Linked DNA regions of Homo sapiens: region 2 is linked to region 1. Evidence: fine-mapped expression QTL. Tissue or cell type: pituitary. Region 1 holds a variant in brackets; the other region holds the start of a gene. All regions are shown on one strand. Distances are from middle to middle.

What was found. PIP is the estimated chance that this variant, and not a neighbour inherited with it, causes the effect.
Region 2: BABAM2-AS2 starts here. The variant in region 1 is fine-mapped to the expression of BABAM2-AS2 in pituitary (GTEx, PIP above 0.99).

The regions. Positions count from the first base shown.
Region 1 is chr2:27,749,793-27,758,052 of GRCh38, forward strand. No RefSeq gene overlaps it. Among named protein-coding and RNA genes, the nearest start is that of MRPL33, 18 kb to the right of the region's middle. RefSeq lists an enhancer at 2,828-3,446. The variant C/G (reference allele first, on the strand shown) is at 5,042.
Region 2 is chr2:28,307,146-28,315,145 of GRCh38, forward strand. BABAM2-AS2 (BABAM2 antisense RNA 2) reads right to left here and starts at 3,314. Exons shown (of 3, transcript NR_038319.1): 1 at 3,132-3,314; 2 at 2,792-2,834; 3 at 546-2,429. All of the region lies in intron 11 of BABAM2 (BRISC and BRCA1 A complex member 2), which reads left to right. It also overlaps the pseudogene RPL23AP34. RefSeq lists an enhancer at 2,018-3,217.

The sequences.
Region 1 (8,260 bases):
GGGGTCCTGAGATTTTTGCTAGAACTCTTGGAAAAGAAGCATTTTCTTTCTCTGTCAGGATTGTAGAATAACTGTAGGTGGATGTTCAGTATATTAGATTATTTGTTTGTTTGCCTGTTTGTTTATATGCATTGAGTAAAATCAGAAAGAAGTATCTTAAAATATTGACATCAATGAATTTTTGGTGGTGGGATAATGATGACATTTATGGTTTTTGTACATTTACATATTATTTATATTTTCTACAAATTTATTATATTTATATTAAAATATATTTTTTTCTTTCTTTTATTTTTCTGAGACAGAGTCTCATTCTGTCACCCAGGCTGGAGTACAGTGGTGTGATCTCAGCTCACTGCAGCCTCTGCCTCCCAGGTTCAAGTGATTCTCATGCCTCAGCCTCCGGAGTAGCTGGGATTACAGGTGTGCACCTCCACACTTGGCTATTTTTTTTGTGTTTTTAATAGAGATGGGGTTTTGCCATGTTGGCCAGGCTGGTCTCTAACTCCTAGCCTCAAGTGATCCACCTGCCTAAGCCTCCCAAAGTGCTGGGATTACAGGCATGAGCCACCAAGCCCTGGCAGATTTTTTTTTTTTTTTTTTTTTTTTTTGATACAGACTCTCACTCTGTTACCCAGGCTGGAGTGAAGTGGTGCGATCTCAGGTCACTGCAGCCTCCACCTCCCAGGTTCAAGTGATTCTCCTGCCTCAGCCTCCCAGGTAGTGGGGATTACAAGTGTGTGCCACCACTCCTGGCTAAATTTTGCATTTTTAGTAGAGACGGGGTTTCACCACATTAGCTAGTCTGGTCTCGAACTCCTGGCCTCACGTGATCCACCCACTTTGGCCTCCCAGGGTGCTGGGATTACAGGCATGAGCCACTGCCCAAAATGGATTTTGATGTTATAAATTATTATTTTAAAACTATTTTAGGCTGGGCGCTGTGGCTCACGCCTGTAATCCCAGCACTTTGGGAGGCCGAGGTGGGTGGATCACCTGAGGTCAGGAGTTCGAGACCAGCCTGACCAACATAGTGAAACCCCATCTCTACTAAAAATACAAAATTAGCCAGGCGTGGTGGCGCATGCCTGTAATCCCAGCTACTTGGGAGGCTGAGGCAGGAGAATCACTTGAATCCGGGAGGCGGAGGTTGCAGTGAACGAAGATGGCGCCATTGCACTCCAGCCTGGGCAATAAGAGCAAAACTTAGTCTCAAAAAAAAAAGTTATAATACATTATAAAACAATATACATATGTACCATAATATATGTTTATGTTTATAATTTTATATAAATAATAGATTCATGTAATTTTTACATTAATATAGAACAGAAGTGCTTTAAGCCCCAAATGCCCATTTATTCCTTCCCTTGGTTCCAGTTTTAAACCCAACTCCTGAAACCTGGCGGGACCTGCATCCTGAATCCCAGGTTAATCCAGTTTCCTATAAAAACTTTTTCAAAAGAAAGCATTTTACCTTTTCAAAGTCAGGTAGTTAGCAAAAAGAGACATTTCAAAGTAAAACATTTAGGAACTAAGAGGTTACACTGGCGCCCCGTTAGACCTCAGTCCTCCTTTTAGCACAGAGGGTGGAAAGATGCGTGGGGCTCTGTTCTCAGGATGGGCTCTGACTCCAGGCCGGCTGTGGCAGGGGGACCAGGGGTGGCCGTGCCTCTTTGACCTGACTTTGTAGTCCTTTTAGGAAGAGCTCAGTGGGTTGTTGAACTGGCGTGGATGCCCTTGGTAGCCCTGCCAGAGAGAGGAATAGGACACAACCCCCACCCATCCTCCTGTCACCTGCCTTCACACTCACAGTCCCTTCAGTCACCAAACGGGAACAGCACAGCTCGGCCCTGCCTGGGTTTCCTCTCCCCTTGTTTGCAAGGACTCCTGAGAATTCACACACATCCTGGGTGTCCTCCCTGCCAGTCACCAGCTCAATCCTGCTGGTGCCCACTGCAGAAACAGACCCCTCTCTTTTTTTTTTTTTTTTTTTTTTTGAGATGAAGTCTTACTCTGTCACCCAGGCTGGAGTGCAGTGGCGCCATCTCAGCTCACTGCTATCTCCACCTCCTGGGTTAAAGCGATTCTTCTGCCTCAGTCTCCCGAGTAGCTAGGATTACAGGCTCCTGCCACCACACTCAGCTAATTTTTTTGTATTTTTAGTAGAGACAGGGTTTCACCATGTTGGCCAGGCTGGTCTCGAACTCCTGACCTCAAGCGATCCGCCCGTCTCGGCCTTCCAAATTGTTGGGATTATAGGTGTGAGCCACCATGCCCAGCCCAAGCCCCTCTCTTAAGTTCTCCAAGCACAGCTTTAACAAAACTCCCCATAACCTCTGCAGAGATGCCATTCTCTCTCAAAGAAAGCCACATTTTACAGTGACTAAGAGGAGCCTGTGGCCTCACGTTGTCCTGCATTGCACTGTCTCCTTTCCAGAAAAGGTTCACGTTTTATCCTTGCATAACCCAAAGACCTATTAAAATCTTTTCCTAAAAACAAAAGGGATTATTCCCACAAGAGCAAGTTGCTTCCACCTCCACCGGAGACAAAGAAATTGGAATCAAAACCCCAAGCCCATGTGGCTCAGAATAGCAGTTTGCTCTTTTTTTCTTGCCATTGCTTTTTTCAAAAATAGCGGAGGCCATTTTTTGCACACCACATTCTATACCTGTTTGGAAACCAAAGGCTGAGTCTGAAAGAGGGTCAGGGACTGGGCTGGGAAGGGAAGGCTGCAGGAGAGACTCAGGAAGAGGGAGTGAGGTCAATGAACACAGCAACCGCCAGTTTTTCCAAGACTGAGACCTTTTATCGTGGAGTCAGATGTGGGGAGAGGGGGCCAGGCGTCAGCTAGCTGTGGGATCACGGGCAAGTCTTGGAGGTGCCTCTTCCAGCTTCAAATCTCTGTGTACTTTGGGGAGGCAGGGGGTTTGCTTCCCAGGTGCAGGCTTGCACCTGCCTCTTTCTGGATTGCATCAGAGCTGCTCAGGACTCATTTCCCCACCCCCACAGGCGCCTACAGCTCCCTCCCCCTCCCATAACTTATTAGCTACAGATAACATCCCTTTGTTCTCCCAGTGACTCCACACCCACAGAAGGAGAGGGGGATGAAGAAATCTGCCAGGAGGGTGCCTCCCGCCAGTATCTGATGAAGGTAAGAGGTAAGAGGCTGCCCGTTTACTGCTTGTGCCTTCCAGGGAAGCTTCTTCCCCAGGGCCACTACCCGTTTCGGGAGGCGTTTCTGGGCTAGGCTTCCTGGCAGGGGAGGCTCTCAGGCACTGGGGCCGCTGAGGGTATGTGGTGAAGCGCTTGGCTTGGAAATCTTTGCCTTAGGGACTCATTAAGAATTTTTTCAGGGAATCCTCGTCGGGTGTCTTCCAATGGCTTCCCACCAGGTTACAGTCAGGCCGAAACTTCTTTTTTTTTTTTTGAGATGGAGTCTCGCTCTGTCGCCCAGGCTGGAGTGCAGTGGCGCGATCTCGGCTCACTGCAAGCTCCGCCTCCCAGGTTCACAGCATTCTCCTGCCTCAGCCACCCGCGTGCCCGGCATGGCCCAAACTTCTTAGCCTTTTTTGCCAGTCCTTTTCCCAGACCCACTGAGCTCCAGTTACATAGAACCACGTGCGATTTCCTTGAAAATATTATGCATTTTCATGCTTCCGTGACTACTTTGCATATGCTGTTTCCTTTGCCTGGAGTGCCCCCTACCACTTCTCTTCTTAAAGAACTCCTATTCATCCTTCAAGACCCTACTCAAAAGTCAGGTTCTTTTTCAAAGCCTTGCTTGACTTCTCAGACAGGGTGGGATGCTCTGTGCTCTAGGCACAGGGTTCCTTCCCTGGCTCATCTGGGATTAGGGTAATTATTAGAATTTACATGTTTATCTTCCTTCTAGTTGTTCCTCCAGGGCAGGGACTGTCATTCACCTTTGCAAATGTGGTGTACAGCACAGTGCCAGGCCCTCGTAATTCCTCAGCCAGTATTTGTGGCAGGATAAACACAATTTCTTCTGGATTTATTGTAATTTTGAGTAGCATTAAGAGAATGCTTTTGTCTCTGTGGACATTCCCTGGCCTCCAGTGGCATCTCTCCAGACAAAGGTCACATATTTGTGAATCTGTATATTCACACAGCATCAGCATGTCACTTCTCAGGTATTTTACATCTGATTTATTTATTTTACACATTAACCCTATGGGTGGTTGTTATTGTTGCCATCATAAAATAAAGAGATCGAGATGCTAAGAGATTAAGTACCATGTTCAAGGTATCAGCACTTGGATGGCAGAGCTGGGACCTGAAACCAGGTATTCTGGCTGCAAAATCTTTTATCTACATCTGAGTTTCTGAGTAAGTGGTCTTTGAATCAGTAGGTCAGCGTCCCCTGGGGACTTGTTAGACAACCCAAAACTCCAAGGGTGGGGCCCAGCAATCTGTTTCAACCAGCCCTGCAGGTCATTCTATCCTCAAGTTAACACTGGCCTGTGCCACAGCTGCTCCAGTAGCTGTCCACAGCCATGGGAGGGCGCTCCAAGGCCGACTTTCACCACTGGGAACCTGTCAGGCACAGCAGAAGGCAAGAAAATGCATGAACTGGGAATTAGGCGGCAGAGTTCTAGTCCTGCCAGTTCTGCAATTATTGGTTGAGTGATTTGGAGCACATTATTTAATGTTTAACCTCCCTGGGCCTCAGTTTTCTCATCTGTAAAATGAGGATGATGACTAAATGTTCTCATCTCTAATTTCCCTTTAAATTCTGTTATTCAGCTCTCCTTTGGAGTAATATGTTGTCTGTGCCAAGGATGGAATGAAAACAGAGTATGATGGCTCATCTTGACTTTTTCCTTACTTACAAATGGAGAGCCCCAAAGTCCAAATCCTTGGACCAGCTATCCCCCAACTTCCTCCTTAGGGGCAGAAGGTGAGAGCAAGCAAACATTTGAGTTGATTCATGAAACTTTACTGGGCAAAGAATAGAAAATGTTGGTTTGGACCCTCCTTCACTATCTGGGGCCCCTCCACATGAGCTCCTTCACCGAT[C/G]CGTCTCCTTCAGCTGCTTCCCCACTGTGACTCTACCAGCCCCTCTCTATCCCCCCTTCAAGCCTGAGCACTTTCCCTGCACCCCCACCTGGAGTTGCCCAATTCACATGCTCTTGTTTATTCACTGCTCTTCTGAGGAAGGGTGGGGTTGGTGTCAGGGTGACTTACTAGGTTTGACAGGGGCTTGGTGGCCTCATGGGGAGCCCCTCAGACGCTGGCTTCACATGGCCCCTCCTGCTGGCTTCACATGGACCCAACGGCCCTCCCTGGAGCCCACCTCACAGTGGATGGGACTGTACCTACTGGGCACTGGTGGGGCCCAGCATTCAGCTGACGGCTGAAAAAACCTCCGGTCTACATTGGGCTAAAAGGGAGGAAGAATGTTTCTTGCCCTTTTGAGATGTTTGCAAAAATCCCCAAAAAGCAATTGTGTTGTCAGAGTACAGCCTTGAATCAGAAAGGTGGTTAGAAGAATTTTAATCACCCAGGAGCTTGGCATCAACATAAGAACATGGCTGATACTCAAGTCCAGAGAGACTAGGAGAACTGGGGAGTTTCAGAAGTTGGTCAAAGAACGTGTTGCCTTTGGCAAAACCACACGTGTCAAACAATCCGAGTGTCTAATCAATCTGTATCGCTCTCAGAGAGACTTTCAGCACAAGGTTTCAGAAGCCAGGAAAAGCCTAATAATGTAGGACATCAGGTGTCCCCAGCAACCCTGGGGTGAAAAGCCAAAGAAGGTGGTTCTTAAACAAGGGCTTGGCCAGGCCCAGTGGCTCACACCTGTAATCCCAGCACTTTGGGAGGCCAAGACGGGCAGATCATGAGGTCATGAGATCGAGACCATCCTGGCTAAAACGGTGAAACCCCGTCTCTACTAAAAATACAAAAAATTAGGTGGGCATGGTGGCGGGCGCCTGTAGTCCCAGCTACTCGGGAGGCTGAGGCAGGAGAATGGTGTGAACCCGGGAGGCGGAGCTTGCAGTGAGCCGAGATCGCGCCATTGCACTCCAGCCTGGGTGACAGAGCGAGACTCCGTCTCAAAACAAACAAACAAACAAACAACAAGGGCTCTGGGAAGACCGGAAGCCAATGTCGACTCCTCCTCAGTTGAAGGTCACCGAGGCTGCATTTCTCAGCTGCAAGTGACCAGGGAAGCTGACCACCCCTTAGATGATCAGTGGAACAACATGTTGATAAGAATATGTGTGTAAAGTTGTGTGCAGTTACGGTTTCTGTGCCTTTTAAATCAATACACATTGTCTCAACCTAGTACCCTGGAGTCCCATGTCAACACCTTCTGCTGATGGCTGCTTTCTTGACCCATTCTGAGCACCCCAAAGTGGGCCTGGTAATTGAGTTCAACCGGGAACCTGCTGACCTGCCTCAGCAGTCTTGGAACTTCCCAGGATCCCAGGGGGCTTGGAAGCCTGGGGACCACCCAGGCGTGGATTAGGATTCCTGGACTGCTCCAGCATGGGCCCCTCTCCCTCCCCACAGTCAGCACCTGTCCCATCTCAGCCTGAAATTGGCCTGCTTTCCTCCAAGACTTGGATCGAAAGACTCTTCTGCACATGTTCAAAATGTATTTCAACTCCTTAGAGTCTCCTAAGCCTCCCATTGCCAAGCCCCTGTGACTTCACAGACACTGAGCACTCATCTCTGGTGCTGTCTTCTACCCAAAGAGTGGCCACATCTGAACATGCTGGTCCTTTAGCTCTCTGTTGTGCAGGAGTGAGGAGACACGGGCTGTAGTCTCAGCATGCTGATGCAGTCTAGCTGTGGGCCCTTCGGCAGGTCACTTTACTTCTCTGGGCCTCAGTTTTATCATGTGTAAAATGAGAATGTTGCTTTAGATGCCCTCTGAGATCTTCCAACTCTAACATTCTGAGATTCTGGGGGCCGCCCTGGCCGAAACAGGTTCAGAGGTGCTGCACATCACCCCACACATAGCCATGAGGACATAGGAGAGAGTCCATGTAGTGTCAGGACAGTGGGGAAGACCCTGGGGCAGATGAATACTTTTCTTTCATGGACTTCGATTTGAGGAGAGCCTGTTGGGTGGGTCCTGGCTGGAAAGAGTGAAACAGCCTCCCTCAGACTCCCCCTGTGCTTGAGTGGTTGCCTCACAGGCTGTCACTTAACCCTCCTCACCACTTCCCAGGGTGGGAAAGGGAAGGGCAGACGGGGAACAGCTGATGAAATAGGCAGACACAAGCGTGTGTTCCTCAAAGACAAAGCCAAGGTCAACAGAGCTGGGCCAACTTGGGCTGCAGCTGCAGGCCCTGCTCTTTGCAGAGTTTCAGCTTCCTCTTCTTGACTCTCTCCTAATAATTTAAATGGGGTTCTTTCTCAGAGCACCAGAGCCAATGGTTGATACTTTGTGTTAGAATTTACCCACAACTATCCACTTGTGTTGCTCTTTAACCTGAAGCCAAAGAGAATGTCCTTGGCTGCTGGGAATGTGTGCAGTGAGGGCACCCAGGAGTGGGATGGTTGTTCTGAGCCTGTGCTCCCACCAGACCATACTTTCTGTGTGCTCTTCCAGGAGGAAATGGATCCAGCCAGAAGGATCAGAGAGTGTCAGAAGATCTGGAAACTTCCTCCGTAGGGCCAAAGCCTCAAAATATGCCATTCTATTCTGGGGAATGCCATTTCTATTCAGGGCTCCATCCATCAAATGGAAATGGGACTCTAGGCTACTTTCCCATCTCCCAGGAATTTGGATGCCTAGAACACAACAATTCTTTTAATCTTCTAAGTTAAAAAAAAAAAATTCGGGGACAGGTGCAGTGGTTCACTCTTGTAATCCCAGCAGTTTGGGAGGCCGAGGTGGGCAGATCACTTGAGGCTAGGAGTTGAAGGCCAGCCTGGGCAACATAGTAAGACCCTATCTCTCAAAAAAAAAAAAAAAACAAAAAAAACAACAGTTGGGTGTGGTGTTTCATGCCTGTAGTCCCGGTTACTTGGGAGGCTGAGGTGGGAGGATCATCTGAGCCCAGGGAGATTGAGGCTGCATGCAGTGAGCCATCATTGCACCACTGCACTCCAGCCTGGGCAACAGAGTGAGACCCAGCCAAAAAAAAAAAAAAAAAAAGATTCTATAAGGGGGAAAAAGACAAGGCGTATCAAGTCCTTGACAATAAGAAAATTGCTAAATATTGCACTCAAACTAGCTTAATAATGAACAACTATACCTTCATCATAAGTTGCAAAGAA
Region 2 (8,000 bases), 560 kb after region 1:
ATAGGCGCACACCACCACACCTGGCTATTTTTTATATTTTTAGTAGAGATGGGGTTTTGCCATATTGGCCAGGCTGGTCTCAAACTCCTGACCTCAAGTGATCCACCTGCCTTGGCCTCCCAAAGTGCTGGGCTTACAGGCATGAGCCACCACACCTGGCCTTAATTGGAGTATTTCATTTATTTATACATTTAATATAAATAATAAGCTTACTGGGTTTAAGCCCTACAGTCTTTCTATTCATATTTTTGGTTTGGGTTTTTTTTTTTTATTCCTTTGTCCTTTTCTTCCTGTATTCTTTCAGTTTATTAAAGTATTTTTTAGTTTACCATTTTCTCTTCTGTTGGTGTGTTAGCTATATTTCTTTGTATATTTTAGTCATTTATACACTAAAAATACACCGTTAACTTATCACAGCCTACCGTGAATTAATATTATAATGCTTCCTGTATAAACAGTGTAATTATCTGTGTACCTTCTATTTATCTTTGTGCTGTCATATTCACACACTTTCAGTCTTCGTATTTTATGAATTCCACAATACATTGTTATTACTTTGGCTTTTAATAGTCAACTAACTTTTAAAGAATTCAAGAAAAAAAGAAAAATTACCTTCCATCTTATTCTGTAGTTTTTCAATAAATGTAATAAATAATCATTTCCTCTAAAAAAAAAACCTATTTAAAATTACTTCCTCCAAATAAGCCATCAGAGTGACCATATCCAGCCTATAGGCAGAGGACATTGAAATTGGCAGTCATCAAGAAAAGAAAATGATATCTACATGACATCCAGGTGCCTCTGTCTGCCCTGTGGACTTCATTCACAGTGGCCCCTCACACACTTTTATGGGATCATCAGCTGCAGCCCTTCAAGGGTTATAATGCAGAAATTCTTAGTAGGCCTCATACAGATTATAAAAACTGAGGCTCAGAGTGATTAATTGACTTTGCCGAGGGCACACAGCTGGCTTCTAGAGGAGTGAGGGCTCAACATAGGTCCTCATTTTCACATTATGGCACCAAAAGTGAAAAAAGTTCTTGCCCCTCCCAAAGCTGAAGCCAAAGCGAATGCTTTGAAGGCCAGGAAGGCAGTGCTTAAAGGTGTCCACAGCCACAAAAAGAAGATCCAATCCACACATCACCCACCTGCCAGTGGCCCAAGACAGTGTGGCTCTGCAGGCAGCAGAAATATGCTTGGAAGAGCACTCCCAGGAGAAACAAGCTTGACCAATAATTCATCATCAGGTTCCCCCAACCACTGAGTCAGCCATGAAGAAGATAGAAGACAACAACACAACTTGTGTCCATTGTGGATGTCAAAGCCAACAAGCACCAGATCAAACAGGCTGTGAAGAAGCTCAGTGACACTGCTGTGGCCAAAGCCAACACCCTGATCAGGCCTGATGGAGAGAAGAAGGCATATTGGGATCATCTAAACTGAATCCAGCTAGTTGATTCTATGTATATGTCTTTTCACCATTTAAAACCAAAACAAAAGCATAGGTCCTCTGACCCTTCTGCACATCCACACCCAGGCAGACAGAAACAGTTCCATACTCTTTTCACCATGTGTCTGAGGCTCTCTTCTCATACAGAGAGGAAATGCATGAGGCAATGAAGAGCACTGACCATAAAGTCAAGACATAGCTGGGTTTAAACCTGTCTCTGCCACTCACAGGCTATGTGACTTTGGGCAAATTCCTAATTTCCCTGGGTCTTTGTTTCCTTGTCTATAAAATGGTGAAGCCTACTTGAGAGGGTTATGATGGGTATCACATGGGGTGTATGATTTTCTGTGTTGCTAATTTTAAAAATATCATAAGTTAACCCTTTTAAAACGCCACTAATTATTAATCTCACAGTTTCTGTGGGTTAGGAGTCCCACTCAAGATGCCTGGGTTCTCAGTTCGGGGTTTTAGGCAACTAAAATCAAGGCTTTGTCTGGGTCTATGATCTCACCCCTGAGGCTTATGCTCCTCCTTCAAGCTCTTTCAGTATGTTGGCAGAGTTCAGTTCCTTGTGGTTGTAGGACTGAGGCCCCTGTTACCTTGCCGCTGTCAACTGGAGACCACCCTCAGCAACTAGAGGCTGCGTGCGTCCTCTGCCATGTGGTCCCCTCCATTTTCAAGCCAGTAGTGGTGCGTCAGATCCCTCTTATATTTTGAATCTCTGCCTTCCATATGTCTTCTGCTAGTCACAGATTTAAAGCCTCCCTGTCTTAAAGTCATCTGTGCCATATAACAAAACCTGTTTACCAGAATGAAATCCATCACATTCACAATCCTGGGGATTACACAGAAGGTGGAGAATCTTGGGGGTCACGTTAGAATTCTGCCTACTACGTGGGATAATGTCAGTGAATTGTCCAGCATAAGGTCTGGCATATGGTAAGAATTTGATCATTTTTAGCTATCAGCAGCAACATCCCTAGAGAAAAAGAGGAGATTTTTAAATTAAAAGCAGAGTCAATATTGATACCATCATATGTACCCCAGTAAACAGTCCCTTAACCTCGGTAACTTGGCTAGAGTTCCCAAAGTTTAAGGCCACCCCATTAATGGACTGTCATCCCCTGTGGTTGTATCTTCTTGGTACCAGCACAACCAGCTGAACCAACCTCATCTCAGCTGAACTCCCCACAAGAGAGATGAGGGAGTTTTCCAGGCCCAGGCCAACATAGCTCGGGTGATCAGAGCCCCCGAGAAGACAATAAAGTCAGTGCTGGTGAGCGACACAGGAATTGGGGACTGAGGTCACCAAGGCCTTCCATTCCGCACGAGCAAGCTCACCCGTCCCTCCTGGGCCTTTTCCTTATGGGGTTTAGAAGTAGAGCTGTGAAGAGAAAAGCAAATCATATAAATAACGTGGAATTATTGGATCCTTGAACCCTTTTGAAAAGTATCTTAAAGGGATTTGGTTTGTTTTTCCTTACAGAAGAGAGAGCAACAGAGATGGGGAGGAATCCAGCTCTGCCTGACATCCAGGCATCCTCTCCAAATTGCATAGGTCAGTGAGAACGTGTTATTTATTAGAACCTGACATCTGTTGCAGTGAAATGATAAGCTCCATTGAAAAGCCTGGCCATCAATTACTGCCAATACAGCCCTCATCCCAGAGGAAGCCACTCACCATCCTCTCAGCCTGTGCAGACCAGGCTGCACCAGGCACGGAGTGTTTACAGCCCAGCTCAGTCTCCTGGCTCCCCTGGGGGAGGGGCAGCAGGTAAATCCCTTCTGCAGGTCCCCTCAGGCCATCTCTCCCCAGGCCCTCCATCTGTATTCCTTTGGTTCCACTGGAAGCTTCTCTGAGAGCAGTTTTAAAGACTGCACCCCCTGTTTATCCTGCTTTCTCAGTGGAAAACAGTTAGGGCTTTTGTTCTGGCCTCAGTCACACAAGCCAGAAGAAGCTGCACTGAACTCAGCTTATCAGGATAGTCACACAGAAAGAGTAACTGGGCTGGGCGTGGTGGCTCACACCTGTAATCCCAGCACTTTGGGAGGCCGAGGCAGGTGGATCACCTGAGGTCAGGAATTCAAGACCAACCTGGGAAACATGGTGAAACCCTGTCTCTACTAAAAATACAAAAATTAGCCAGGCATGATGGCGGGCGTCTGTAATCCCAGCTACTTAGGAGACTGAGGCAGGAGGATCACTTGAACCGGGGAGGCAGAGGTTGCAGTGAGCCAAGATCGTGCCACTGCACTCCTGCCAGGGTGACAGAGCAAGACCCCGTCTCAAAAATAAAAATAAAGAAAAAAAGAGTAACTGGAAGGTCAGCACATCTTTGTCAGGAAAATTAACTCAGGTGTGCCCTTTCAAGAACAATTGAGTGGGCTGGGCGCGGTGGCTCACGCCTGTAATCCCAGCACTTTGGGAGGCCGAGGCAGGCGGATCACAAGGTCAGGAGATCAAGACCATCCTGGCTAACATGGTGAAACCCTGCCTCTACTAAAAATACAAAAAATTAGCCGAGTGTGGTGGTGGGCACCTGTAGTCCCAGGTACTTGGGAGGCTGAGGCAGGAGAATGGCGTGAACCCGGGAGGCGGAGCTTGCAGTGAGCCGAGATCGCGCCACTGCACTCCAGCCTAGGCGACAGAATGAGACCCTGTCTCAAAAAAAAAAAAAAAAAAAGAACAATCGAGTGTTCAAGCTTGGGTTCCAATTACCCCGCCAGCCACTGGGGAAGTGTTTGGGATCACCAAGGAGAGCAACTTCCTTGCTTGTGAGTTAGGGTCACGTATTCTCTTTCCTGGAAAAATAGACAGGTGTCCTATAGAGTTAGAAAGGAAAGGGTAGAGGAGCTGGTTTGGGATTTTTATGATAAACCATAGTAGGAACATATGCTATTAATGGAATCAGAGTTCCTTTTGAACAGCTGGGGGAAGAAACGTACAGTAAGTCAAGAAAAAGCAAAGGATAGTGGCCTGGGAGTCAAGTGACCTGGGTCTCATCTAGGGACCATTATTAATTTCCTTCGTGATCATGGAAAAGACACGTCACCTTTCTGGACTTCAGTACCTTCCTCTGAAAGTACTGGGCTAGTACCCACCTGGTAATCACTAAGCTCTAATATATTTCTGGAATTTTAAGTGAAAATTGTTTAAGGTAGCTGAGCATACTTTTTTATTCATGTTGAGAAACTTCCATCTCTGTTGCCGGAGGTCAGACACAAATTGAAAACATTACTAAATGGAATTAAGTACACCGTGTACGTGATGCCTTTTTGTACAGCTCGTATCTGATATTTATAGAACACTTCAGTTGCAGAACGTGCACACATATGCCCTGAACACACACCCAATAAAATAATTCTAGATGCAATACATTTTCAGATGTCAAGTTAAAACAGCTTCTTAGGAATTAGGCTTGACTGTTCAGATGTGTGTGTTAGTTTATGACAGGTGCCGCCAGGGCTGCTCAGGGCTGTCATGAGTGATGTGGAGTCCAGCCAAGGCAGGAGGGCCAAGCCGCTTGTTTCTATCACTTCTCATTAAGGCATGAATTCTAGAAAAAAGGGAAGCATCAAAGAACCATCAGGATTGTCCATTGTGTGCATATCATAATGACAAGCAGAGGCCTTGCTTCTGCAGAAACAAGATTCTGTCTTGTCTTTTGTCAGATCATTCAGCACAAGGGCCACCTGTGAAAATGAACTAGATTCATGCCTTATTAAAGTAGAGGATTTACAGAGGTGAGCAAAAATGGGAAGCAGGTACCATCCAGCTCATTATATACAGAGTATGTACAAAGCACTGGAGACTACCACACACACGTATTTTGAAGAGCCCCAACTCAAAGCCTACTGATTGATTTCTGGAATGGTCTGTCACTCCTTGAGATTCCATTCTGACAATGAGGCTATCTATGGCATTAACTACTCAGAAGACTGAGTACAACTCAGAATTACAAAGCAGGAAGTTACGTAGTTCTTCTAAAAATCAAAACCAAAATTTAGAAAACTCACTGGGGCAGTTACCTCTACTCCACTGTCCTGCAAAATCCACAACCAACAGCAGAGATAAGTTGGGTGACTAAGTAGGAATGCATCCTGGGAAGTTAAGTGTGACAGTGGGGGCCAGTCACAGAACATGGAACATGGAAGGAACTTTAGAGATCATCTAGTACTGCCAGGTCTAAATATGGTAAGCATTAACTATTGTGATAGACATTCAATGAAATAATCGATATAGACCTTTAAGCACAGTGATTGGCATAGAGTTGACTTTCAGTTCATCATTTTCATTTCCTAGAAGAATTTGTGCAAGGCATACAGTATCAAGATTAGAACCCTATGCCCCTGATTACTGGTCCAAAGCCCAGCCCAAGCCACCTCTGACCTCCTACGTTTCCCCTCTTTCCTGCTCCCTTGCTCACAGGAGCAGCACAGAATCATCAAGGGCAGGAGTTTAGCCTGCACCACGTACACATCCACCTACCCGTGGAGTGGCCTGGCATGGGTGCCTTCTTCCTAGTGGCTCACCCAGGAGGCTGAAGGCCTCTGTGCCCATGGGGAAAACCCAGGGTGTTTGTGAGCAGAAATAACCCTGCTGAGAGTCTAAAAACCAAGTACTTTTAAGAGAAGGTAACATGCTTCTGTGGCCAAACTTATTACTAGCGTCTATGGGCAAAAGAGAAGAAGGAGTATTGTAATGGAATGCGCCAAAGGAAAGACATCACTTTACTGCTATCTCCAAAGCAGCAGGGAGGCTGCACATTGAGAAGAGGATAGAAAATTCCAGTGACTCCTATTTTCCCAGACAGACAGAACCTCTGGCACTTAGTCATGCCTAATGGAAAATCGAAGCCAAGAAAGCAGAAATGGGGTGGGGGTGAGCTAGGGTAGTCTGTAATCCAAAGTCACTTCTGAGGAAAAAAAGTAGTTTGTTTGTCTCCTTGTGTGCCATGAGTGGGCAGGGCTGAGTTGCCAGGTAGCGGGGCCTTGACACTCGGAAGAACAGCCTTTAGAGCAGCCATGATTGTGAGAATTGGGCAGAACAGTGGTTTCCTAGTTGATCCAGAAGCAACTAGTAAGCCTACAGTCTGTGTGTAGCTGCAGTTAAGTTACTGCTAAATCTCTTCAGCAAACGTGTAAGAGCTCACTATATGCAGAATATGTACAAAGCACTGAAGACTAACACACACACATTTTGAAGAGCACCAACTCAAAGCCTACTGATTGATTTCTGGAATGGTCCATCGCTGCTTGAGATTACATTCTGACAGTGAGGCTGTCCACGGCATTAACTACTCAGCAGACTGAGTACAGTCCGAATTGCAAAGCAGGAAGCTATGTAGTTCTTCTAACAATCAAAATCAAAATGTAGAAAACCCCAGTTTTGCATTATTGATCATTTGGGAGACTGGATAATCCTTAAACTGTCATTATTCCAGGTATCCAGAAAAGTGAGCATTACAGGAACGTGCATATAAGGGCAAGATCACGTATTTTCTCAGAATAAACAATGGGTCACCCAGTGCCTCCTAATCACCTTACAGACAATAAGAATTGTAAAATGTATTGAATAATTATAGTACACCAGCATAGCTCTAAGTGCTTTATGTTTTTTAATTTCTGTAATTCTCGTAACAACCTTATGAGCTAGGTACTGCTATTACACCTATTTTACGGGTTATGAAATTGAGACCCTGCAAAAGGAAGGGACGTATTCAAGGTCACAGAGTCACTTAGTGTAGGAACTGAGCATATACCTTGGCTTTCCCAACTTTTAGATTGGTTTCATACTGCACCACCTCTTTTCCTCAGATTAAGGTCTGAGTTATCCCAAATTCACCAGGCAGCTGAGCTCAGCTCTCTGTTTAGAACTGCAGGGTCTAGGCTGTTTGCCTTGGTTGACACTCAGGTTTGGCATGCCCCAGTGTGGATTTGTAGTGGCTAACATTTAATTAGATTTTGCCCAGATCACTAGCCTAGATCACTTTTCCCATTCATTCATTCAGCAGATGTTTATTGAATTCAAACTAGGTGTTAGGTACGATGTTAAGTGATGTGTAAGATACAGTCCCTGCTTTCGGTGAACTAGAGGAGGGATGAGAATTGCACATAGATTCTTCTCTTTAAGGTGGCAACGTGCAGGGAAAGAGCACTAGGAGTCGAGGAAAGAAGATTATGTCTGTTTACTGGGACCCAGGAAGCTGAAATTGGAGGCTGGGTAGGATTTGATGTGCAGAGAGGGGAGGACACTCCTCCAGAGGAAACAGAGTGCACAAAGGCCCAGAAGATGGGAAGCATGGGGGTTCCAGGAGGTATGCCGGTGTCCACTGAAGACAAGAGCAGTAGATAAGGCAGGAAAGAAAAGAAAAGAGAAAAGAAGGAAGGTGGGGAGGGAGGGAAAAGAAAGAAAGGAAAGAGAGAAGGAGAGAGAGAGAAGAAAGAAAGGGAAGGGGAGGGGAGGGGAAAGGGGGGAGGGAAGGAAGGAAGGAGAGGAGAGGGGAGAGGAGGGGAAAAGGGGAAGGGAAGGGAGAGAAGGAGAGGGGAG